Homo sapiens: one gene and its partner. The protein of the gene in region 1 purifies or fractionates together with the protein of each later gene. This does not show direct contact. Each region holds a gene or a part of one and is shown in the gene's direction. Other genes may lie near its edges.

The links. The genes of interacting proteins can lie anywhere in the genome.
Region 2: the proteins of USPL1 (region 1) and KRT85 purify together in Homo sapiens (affinity purification with mass spectrometry; one large-scale study listed by BioGRID and IntAct). This does not show direct contact.

What each region holds. Positions count from the first base shown.
Region 1 is NC_000013.11:30,619,997-30,625,595, forward strand, and holds part of USPL1 (SUMO-specific isopeptidase USPL1), read left to right. Parts: intron 1-1,076; 5' UTR 1,077-1,144; coding exon 1,145-1,243; intron 1,244-1,767; coding exon 1,768-1,896; intron 1,897-5,599. UniProt on the Homo sapiens protein: SUMO-specific isopeptidase involved in protein desumoylation. Specifically binds SUMO proteins with a higher affinity for SUMO2 and SUMO3 which it cleaves more efficiently. Also able to process full-length SUMO proteins to their mature forms.
Region 2 is NC_000012.12:52,358,634-52,363,220, reverse strand, and holds the end of KRT85 (keratin, type II cuticular Hb5), read left to right. Parts: intron 1-241; coding exon 242-367; intron 368-749; coding exon 750-970; intron 971-1,722; coding exon 1,723-1,754; intron 1,755-2,174; coding exon 2,175-2,368; 3' UTR 2,369-3,215; downstream 3,216-4,587.

The sequences.
Region 1 (5,599 bases):
CAAAGATATTTGTAGTGCTGCAGTTGAGAAATTTCTGTCTTATGGTTATTTCTTCAGGAATAGGAAATTAAGATTCGCCGATACTTTCTTTAAAAAGCAGTTTTATTTTTGAAATTATTCCTTGGCTTGAAAGGTTTGTGAAGTTTATATAGCCGAACCAGAATAGCGTAATTAGATTTTAAAGTGAATTGTGAGCCATCGATTCCCAGGAGATGGGTGTCATAGAATCATGGATTCTTGGATTTGGGAAAGACTTATGCCTAGAATTATTTTACAACATTTCTGCTAAGTGGTAATTCTCCTCTGCCCTAAAGGTCTCCTGTATTTGATTTTCCTATCATTGTGAACCCACAATTAAAATGCTCTTAATTATTTTTTGCTTACACTGAGCTCCGGTCTCTTGTAATTTTTACTCTGTTAAATGTGGTTCTGCACCATAGGACTGCACTCAAAACAAGCTTGCCACATATGTAATTTGTACTAGGACAGTGTTTATATTTTTGTTCAGATAACAAAATAAGTTAAATGTGGTGTAAATTAGATCATTTACAAATAATAATTTGTTAGCAGCTTTTAATAAGTAGTATTTTTCCCAACTGGTGAAGTATTAATGTTGGTAGTTGAAAACAATAGGAATGTATGGAATATATGGTTCACTGGTTCTTTTGTTCCTGTCAAATAGTGGCACAATGGATCTGGGGTTTTTCTCAGTATAATGCTGGCATATTTGTTTCAAATTGTACATAGACTCTAAAAAGTTAGGCTTTCAAATTCTGGTCAATATAGTTTGCTTTAAATAGTAGCTGCCTCTACTACAAGTTTTATTTAATTTGTTGACAAATGAGTCTGCTATGAAAACCGGTCCTGTTGCCAGTCACTACCCTCTGTTCACAAATTTGCTGGGTTTATAAATATAGGTATCATTTTCACTTCAAGATTATAATTTTAGAATATGTTTATTCTAGGACATATAGCCCTCAAAATCTGCTTACTATATACGTCTTATAAAATAGCATGGTTCTTTTTTATAGTAAATAGAATTTTTATTTAATTGTCTATTGACTTTTTTTTTCCAGGGTTCATTGAAAAAATCCTTAGTGATATTGACATGTCTCAAGTGACATAAATTAGCCAATGACTCGGAATGATGGATTCTCCGAAGATTGGAAATGGTTTGCCAGTGATTGGACCAGGGACTGATATAGGGATATCTTCACTCCACATGGTGGGGTATTTGGGAAAAGTTAGTGAACTTATTTTTTGCCTGAGTGCAAAGTTTTTTTTTTTTCTCTATTTTTGAGACTTAAATTCAATTTTGATGTTACCAGTTAACTTCTAAAAAATTGTGTCTTCCACGGAAATCTTACAGTAATGGCGAAAGATTGTTTTAATGTGTTTACCTTTCTGTGTTTTATTGATACATGAAAGTGGAAATAAAACATAGACCTTATGATTTACTGTTCTTTGAAAATATGGTACATAAATTCTCCCGGGTAATTGATGTTACTTTTTTCCTTGCAAATAAAATTGATACTATTCTTAACACATAAAATTTAATATTTAAAACTATAACATAATTCTTTTTGGAATAATAGCTGTATTTAAAGGCTTATATGCATTTCTTTTGTTTGCCATGTTTAAAATACCTTGTCAGGATACTTGTAATTGAAAATTATAATTTTTTCTGGTTACCTTTCCATTTAACTTTTAATATTTTGATATATTCTAGGAATGTCTATATTTTAATTTGCTTTATTTCTCTTTTAGAATTTTGATTCAGCTAAAGTTCCATCAGATGAGTATTGCCCTGCTTGTAGAGAGAAGGGAAAGTTAAAAGCCTTAAAGACTTACCGAATTAGTTTTCAAGAATCTATCTTTTTGTGTGAGGATCTGCAGGTAAAGTATTAATCTTATATAGTATATATAAGATTTTTCTTTTTTCTTTTGCTTTTTTATTAATTGTTTTAAAAGTTTACTCATTTTTTGTTTTTTAGACTAGATTTTTAATATGTAATCTCAGTTTGTAAGTCTGTCTGGTATACAATGTTATTTTTCCACCTACCTTTACTTGGTTGCGTAAAGATGTTCGTTTTTATTGCCATTTGATTTGCGAGAGGAGAAAATACATTTCAAGGTTTTTTTCTTTTTTTTTAACCTTTTGGAGGTCCTTGTTAGCTATTAGCATATAGTAGTTACTCTCTCATCTCTTTGGTTTATCTTTGCAACTGATGGGAAAAGTTATGAATTTCTAATGTACCTGGAAGAGTATTTTGGAAATTGGTTAGTCCAAAACCAGTATATATACTCTGAACTAAAGAGAGTATAGAATCTTGTAAATTCTAAAAGATCCTTTTAGAAGCTCTAAATCGCTTTTAGAATTATAGTAATTTGTACCGACTGGTACGGCTTTTATATAGCAGCTCATTAAATTCTGTAATACTCCACATTTTATTGTATTTGACAGTTTATGAGACTGTCTCATACACTTTTAATTCTCAGAACTTTGCAAGATTTGTATTCCTATTTCATGAATAAGAAAATAAATTGATTTCAGAGGGTTTGGGAACATAAGATCCTGATACAGTGGCAGAGCTGTGGTTGGAATACAGACTTCTAATTTCAGATCTGTTTATTCCAGCAAAAAATTAGCAGTTCATCAGAATTACCTGGAGTGCTTTTAATAAATTTCTGAGTATCACCCCCAGATGCTGATTCAATAGAGTTGGCCCAGAATTCTGTGGTTTTGTAACATTTGAGGATGAGTCTGATCATCATCAGCCAGGTTTGGAAAATACTAGACTAAATCACATGGTTGTTAATAGATACTTATGCTGGGTATAATTTGAAGTAAAGTAATCCCAGGCGTGTCTACAAATATAAATTTCTTTATGTTTATATTCAGTAATTTTTTTTATGAGTGTCACTGTTTGGCACTGTTGCAGATACAATGTTAGGATACAATAATAAAACAAAAATTTCTTGCCCTTAAGGAAGTTATGTCATAGAGTGGGAAAGACAGTGAACAAGTATGTGTTTTTCTGTCAGGTGATAAAAAGTGCTGTGGAGAAAAATAAGGCAGTAGGGACTGGAATGCCAAAGTAGGGGGAGTTTGCAATTTTAAATAGGATGGTGAGGGGAACGCTTCAATGAAAAGTGCAATTCGAGCAAAAGCCTGAAAGAGGTGAAGAGCAGTGAGCTTTCTAGGCAGGGGAAGCAAGTTCCAGGAAGGCCCTGAGAGAATGGAGGCTGCCTGTCATGTTTGTGCTACTGCAATGAAAGCAGCAGAGCGATAGAAGGTGGATCAGAAAAATAATGGGGGAGCTGGACCAAGTAGGGTCTTATAAGCCATTGTAAGCTTTCTGGCTTTTACTATGGGTGAAACCAGGAACCATGGCAGAGATGTTGGCAGAGGAGTGACATAAGTTGACTTCAGTGTTAAAAGCATTACTGTGGCTGCACTGTTGAAAATATATGTAATGGGCAAGACCTGAAGCAGGGAGATTAGTTATAGTATAATATGAATTATATTTGGTCCTTGTCTATGGTTTCCGTTACAGAGCTAAAAGTCTTGGAATTTCCTGAATGATAAGAGTGTCCTGTTATTCAGAATGAGCCTGTTTGCTAACACCGGGGTTCATACTATTGTGGTGACTTAGGATGGAGCCGTAGATAGCCTCAGATGGGGCAAGTAGCTGGAAAGACCACATGATTAGAGAATTAACGGGTTAGAACTTTTAGCCCCACGTACAGGCCTCCAGGAAAGGAGTGGAGGGGCTGGAGATCAAGCTGTATAAAAATATCAAGATTTGGATTTAATGAGTGGGTTGCTGGGGGCTGGTGCCGTGTAGGAGGTGGTATGCTTAGAGGAAGTGGAAGCTTCATACCTCTTCTGTCCCATACCTTGCCCTACTCATTTCTTCATCTATACCCTTTATAATATCCTTTAGGATAAACCAATAAACATAAGTAAGTGTTTGTTTGAGTTCTGCGAGCTGTCCTTGCAAACTAGTTATGCCCAAGAAGGGGGAGTGGGAACCTTTGTAGCCAGTCAGTCAGATGTACTGGTGGCCTGGATGTGGGATTGGCATCTGAAGTGGAGGGAGTCATGGGACTGAGCCCTCAACCTGTAGGATCTGACATGGTCTCTAGGTAGATAACATCCAAATGGAATTGGATTATAGGATACCCATTTGGTGTCCTCTGGAGAATTGCTTGGTGTGGGGAAAAAGCCCCCACACATCTGGTCACAAAAGTGTGCTGGGAGGATAGAATATGTGAAAATTGTCATAATCAAAATGGAGTCACTTGTGTTAAAAAAGAAAAAAAAATCCTGACTGGCCAGGCACAGTGGCTGACAACTGTAATCCCAACACTTTGGGAGGCTGAGGCAGGAGGATTGCTTGATCCCAGGAATTGGAGACCAGCCCATGCAACATAGTGTGGCCTTGTCTCTACAAAAAAAAAAATTTAAATTAGCTGGGCATGGTGGTGTGAGTCTGTAGCCCCAGCTACCCGGGAGGGGGACTACGGGTGCACGGCACCATGCCCAGGAGGTCCAGGCTGCAGTGAGCTGTGATTGTGCCACTGCATTCCAGTCAGGATGACAGAGTGTGAGACCCTGTCTCTATTAAAAGAAAAAAAAAAGACAAATAGATCCAGGAAAGGCTATGAAGAGAGAGCTTTCATGCATAAATACCAAAATATCTCAAAAGACTCTGCAAAAACCACACCCTTGCACAAAGGCCATCATGAAATACTTCTGAAATACACAGAAAATACATCATGAAATAAATACACAGAAAATACTTCTGCAAGGACATCTGCCCAGCAACTGCCTGGTCCATCTGTGGACGGGTGTCATCCTTGTTATTGATCCTTGTAGCCAAGGGTAATTATCTCAAAACAAGTATGTGATCCTCCTTATTTTCCTTTAAAAACCTTTTGTCTTCCCTTACCTCCCTGAACACACACAGTTTACTATGGCATGTGTATTCCCATTGGAATACTTTATTCCTGAATAAATGTCACTTTCTTTTTAGAAGCTTCTCTTTTCTTTTTATTTAGATTGATAAGTAGAAAGGAAAAAAAGCTTTTTTCCCTTTGGACTAGTTGAAGGCAGTTGCAGTATTCTGGGGGAGAGGGTGGTGGCAGAGGTGTTGAGGCATGGTTGGAGTTTATTTATACTTTGAAGGTAAAGCCAACAGGATTTGCTGAAAGATTGGGATATGGGGTTGGAAAGAGGAATCAAGGATAGTTCCAAGATTTTTGGCTTGAAAAATTAGAAGAATGGAATCGTGAATTACTGAGCTGGGAAGACTTGGAAGAGCAAGGTTTTGGGGAGAAGATCAGGACTGTAAGAATAGAGAAGTCCTTGTCCCCAGGAGTTAGGTTTTTGGCTATTAAAGTTAGATGTACTACATAGATTTTTAGTTGGTTTTTTGTTTTTTGTTTTTTTTTTTTTTTTTTTTGAGACGGAGTCTCGCTCTGTCACGAGGCTGGAGTGCAGTGGTGCGATCTCGGCTCACCGCAACCTCCGACTCCCTGGTTCAAGGGATTCTCCTGCCTCAGCCTCCTCAGTAGGTGAGATTACAGGCATGTG
Region 2 (4,587 bases), on another chromosome or scaffold:
CTAAGCATGGCAGTGGGAGGGAAGTTAGGCATCTATTAGAAAAGATTTCTCTTGCCTGGGGATTCTGACCCATGAGGACAGTATGAGAAAAGCCAGTAGTTCTCAGGTTGAAGTGGCAGGGCAGGACTGCCATGTGTGGTTGCACAGGCTGAGCACCGTACAACCTGTATAGTCATCTGTGGTGTCCTGAATGGATGGGGGGCCCCACCCTGAGCCTCATGAGCATCTCTACTTCCTCCAGTGTGAGGAGATGAAGGCCACGGTGATCAGGCATGGGGAGACCCTGCGCCGCACCAAGGAGGAGATCAACGAGCTGAACCGCATGATCCAGAGGCTGACGGCCGAGATTGAGAATGCCAAGTGCCAGGTGGGGTCTGTGGAGGATTCAAATACGCAGCACAGGCAGGCTGCAGCACCTGGCCCTAATCAGGCTTCACAGTGTGCCCATGAGGAAGCAGGGACCCAGAGGGAAGGGAGGGGCTCTATCATATTTCACAGCAATCAGACCATGTCACTGACTTCCAAAGGAGGATCCAGCCCCTTCCTTGGCCACCCTGTGACCGCCATCAAGGAGAGATGATGAAAAGCCCACCCATCTCCTCCCTCATATTCACAGCCCCATTAACTACCTGGCCACGGGCCAACCTTCTCTCCAGGACCCTCCTCTCCCTGCCCTGGCTCCATCAGCTTGGGTGAGCCAAGCTGTGGCTTCTCTTTCTCATCCTGGCCCTTGTATCTCCACCTGATAGCGTGCCAAGCTGGAGGCTGCTGTGGCTGAGGCAGAGCAGCAGGGTGAGGCGGCCCTCAGCGATGCCCGCTGCAAGCTGGCTGAGCTGGAGGGCGCCCTGCAGAAGGCCAAGCAGGACATGGCCTGCCTGCTCAAGGAGTACCAGGAGGTGATGAACTCCAAGCTGGGCCTGGACATCGAGATCGCCACCTACAGGCGCCTGCTGGAGGGCGAGGAACACAGGTGGGGCTAAGAGGACTTTGTGGGGTTTCAGAGGTGGAGGCTGTGGTCCTCCAGGAGTGAATTTCCTTGAGCTGAGTGTGAGCTACAACTCTGGCCATGGCTAATACAATAGCTTCAATAATAATAATAATAATAACTGAATGCTTCTGTGCTAGACCTGTGCTAAGTGTTTATTTTATAATCCTCACAATCCAATAAGATAGATATGGTTTTTCCCATCTTTTTATCTTTAGATAAAGAAGCAGGCTCAGAATTCAGTGCCTTTATCATGGCTACGCAGTTAATAAGCAGAAGAGCTGGGACCTGCACCCAAGTCTCATGCCTCCCAAATCCGTCCTTGTTGAATAGCTTCCTACTGAAGCTGCTGCCACACAGGCCTGTGTGTTATGATGATGATGCACTTCTATATGCATTTAGCTCTTCATCAACCACAAAGCCCCTTCACACCCTGGTGTATCTGATTCAACTCTCCTTCCTGTGAGCTTGATTGGCACCATCCAGGCTGGCCACCATCACTCAAACTAGGGGCACTGTTCATAATCTTACCCACTGCTGCTGAAAATCAGAAAGCCTTGTCTTCATGGTTAAAACCATCAAAGAAAGAAAGCATTTAATGCAGATTTGAGGGAGCCCTTCTTGCCTTTCAGGGGTAGACTCTGTACACAGGATGACCCTCTCTGTCCCCAAGCAACCATCAGTCTCAAGGAATCCAACTCAGTGTCTGGAACTAACAGAGTTTTCTTTCTCCATAGGCTGTGTGAAGGTGTGGGCTCTGTGAATGTCTGTGAGTATCTGCCTGAAATTCTCCTGGAAAAATGGCTTTTTTGATAGAAAAGCTGAACTCATTGGCCTAACCCATGGAGCCTCGAGTGTTCCCCCAACTGTTTCACCCTCCCCTGGCTCCTCAGTGGGGGCCATGACAGGTGTTAGAGAAAGCTGAGCTGAGTGCTCTTCGCAAGTGTTGACAGTGAGCTATAGGCCATGGACCTGTGGCCTGGCAGCTTTGCTCCCCGGGGTCCAGGGGTCCTCACTTCCTTCCTGCCCCAGTTCCCTAGATGGGCTGTGCATCTCAGGGACAGGGCCTGCATTGTTGACCACCAATTCCTTGGAGAGGGAGGCAGCTCCTGCAGTGCCCTGGGGCCTGTTGTAGGGTGGGTGAGATTGCAGGGAGCTGCTCACCCCTCCATGTCTCCTCTCTCCACAGGTGTCAGCAGCTCCCGTGGTGGAGTCTCCTGTGGGGGCCTCTCCTACAGCACCACCCCAGGGCGCCAGATCACTTCTGGCCCCTCAGCCATAGGCGGCAGCATCACGGTGGTGGCCCCTGACTCCTGTGCCCCCTGCCAGCCTCGTTCCTCCAGCTTCAGCTGCGGGAGTAGCCGGTCGGTCCGCTTTGCCTAGTAGAGTCATGGAGCCAGGGCTTCCTGCCAAGCACCTGCCTGCCTGCATCACTGCACTGAATGGCATGTGAATGGAAAATGTGTGCTTGCTTCCAGAATCTTCTGGATGTTCCTACAGAGGGAAAGACCTACAGAGGGAAAGACCCTCGGGCCGCTCCCCTGCGCCTTTTCATGCTAGGGAGATGCATCCTAGTTGTCCTCCTGGCAGCTGTTTTCAGAGGCATTCCCAGCCCTTCACTTAACTCCTACTTAGCTCCAAAATACCTGTATCCAATTTGTATTATTCCCCCAGCTCTCAGGGACAAGACCAGTCCCCCAGCGTGGTGGTCAGCACGGAAGCTCCACCTTCTGGGTGGAGGCGCCATCCTAACCATCCAGCCAGGCCACCCACAACCCGAGAATCAGGGAGAAAGTCCCTCCCCAGCAGCCCCCTCCTCCTGGCTGGGAAGAATGGTCCCCCAGCAAGCACTTGCCTGTTCATTCCTGTTCATGTTTTGCTTCTCTCTCAGACTGCCTTCCTGCTTCTGGGCTAACCTGTTCCAGCCAGGCTCCTCATGTGACCTCGCAGTTGAGAAGCCCATTATCGTGGGGCATCCTTTTGCCTACAGCCCCTGGTTAGGGCACTTTGGACAGGTCTTGCTATTCAGTGAACCTTTGTACATTTCAAAGAAGACTCCATGGCTGCTCCAGATGCCCCCTTGCTGGGTGCAGGTGGGGACTGTCCAATGCAGAGCTGGCGGGACAGAGAGTTAAGCCACTTCCTGGGTCTCCTTCTTGTGACTGTCTATGGGTGCATTGCCTTCTGGGTTGTCTCGATCTGTGTTTCAATAAATGCCGCTGCAATGCAAGAGCGTGTGGTCTTGTGAGCAACTTCTCCACTCCCTTCTTGCCTCATCTCCAGATGACCAATCCCAGTCCAGCCCCATGCAGTGTTTCCCCAGTCACCCCCCAGAAACTCTGCTGCTTCCTGTCCACTTCCACAGTCTGATTCCACTCAGTCGCCCTCAGTCCCCTCAGGCCTGGACTACAGCCCAGCTCCCCACTAATGACCTCTTTCTCCCTGACCCACCCTGCGTACTCCCAGCAGCCAAAACTCCATCCCAAACTCACTGCTCTCACCCTCTCCTGCCTGGCTCAAGTCACTTCCTGGCACATGTGTGTGCTTCTTATGCCAAATGCAGGCTTCCTCTGTCACCTCCTTCCCCAGCTACTCCTCAGCCCTGTCCAACCCCTCCATGCGGTGCTCATCCTCCCAGTCATGGACTCCACCCCAAGGAGACAAGTCTACCCTCTGAGGCAGCCCAGAGACACTCTCTCCTACATACCCCTTGTGGACACATAGGCCATCCCACATCCCTCCTCCCATTTGCCTTTGCTCAGGGCCCTCCTCTGCTCCCCAAAGCTACCACCCTCACCCCTACACCCCCCAGCCCTCCCCCGCCCCCATCATATAGTGTCTGGAACCCTGAGAATCTCTGGTTTTGTCTCTGCGGATCTGGGCCAGGGATGTCAACGGGTGTGTCTGGATCAAGCTGGAAATTCCATAAGGACAGGAAGTATCTCCTCCTGGCTCTGACCTCCCACTGAGTCCCAGGATGGGGCTCCAAGATATGCCAGGCCTGGGATGTGCTGGATGAATGCAGGCAGCTGGTGCAGCAGGAGGTAGAGACATCCAGTCCTCTTGCCCTCAGCTCCATCTCCCCATTAGCTGTCACCGTCATCAAGCAGGTGTCTGCCAGCCCCCTGCTGCCCCATCCTGCAGCCTCTTTCTCTGAGAGGAGAAGATAGGGCCTTGTGCATCCTCACTTTAGGCCCAAAGGGCTGTAGCCCCACTGGAGGCTGCTGGCTGCTTCTGAGTGCTTAGGCTGCTGCTCTGTTTGAGGTTTGCTGGCTGACACCTGGCGGGCCTCCTCCAGGTCTCTTGCCTGCTGCCTCCTTTTTCCCAGCTGTTTGGGCCCTGAGGGCATGGTGACAATCACAATAGGCCAACTTTCAATTTAGGGGACATCATTCACCCACAGGAAACGTTAAATCCCAGGGGCTGAAACATCAGGAAATGGAAATTTGAGCCCCAATTCTGCCAAGACTGCCAGGTCTCGGTGAGTCCTTGGGCAGGAAGTGGCTTTCATGCTTTGCATGTCAGTCTGGGGTCTATGAGATGAGTGGGTAGAGTCCTTACCAGGTCTGCTGCCTCCTATGGTTCTGAGATGCTACAGAGAG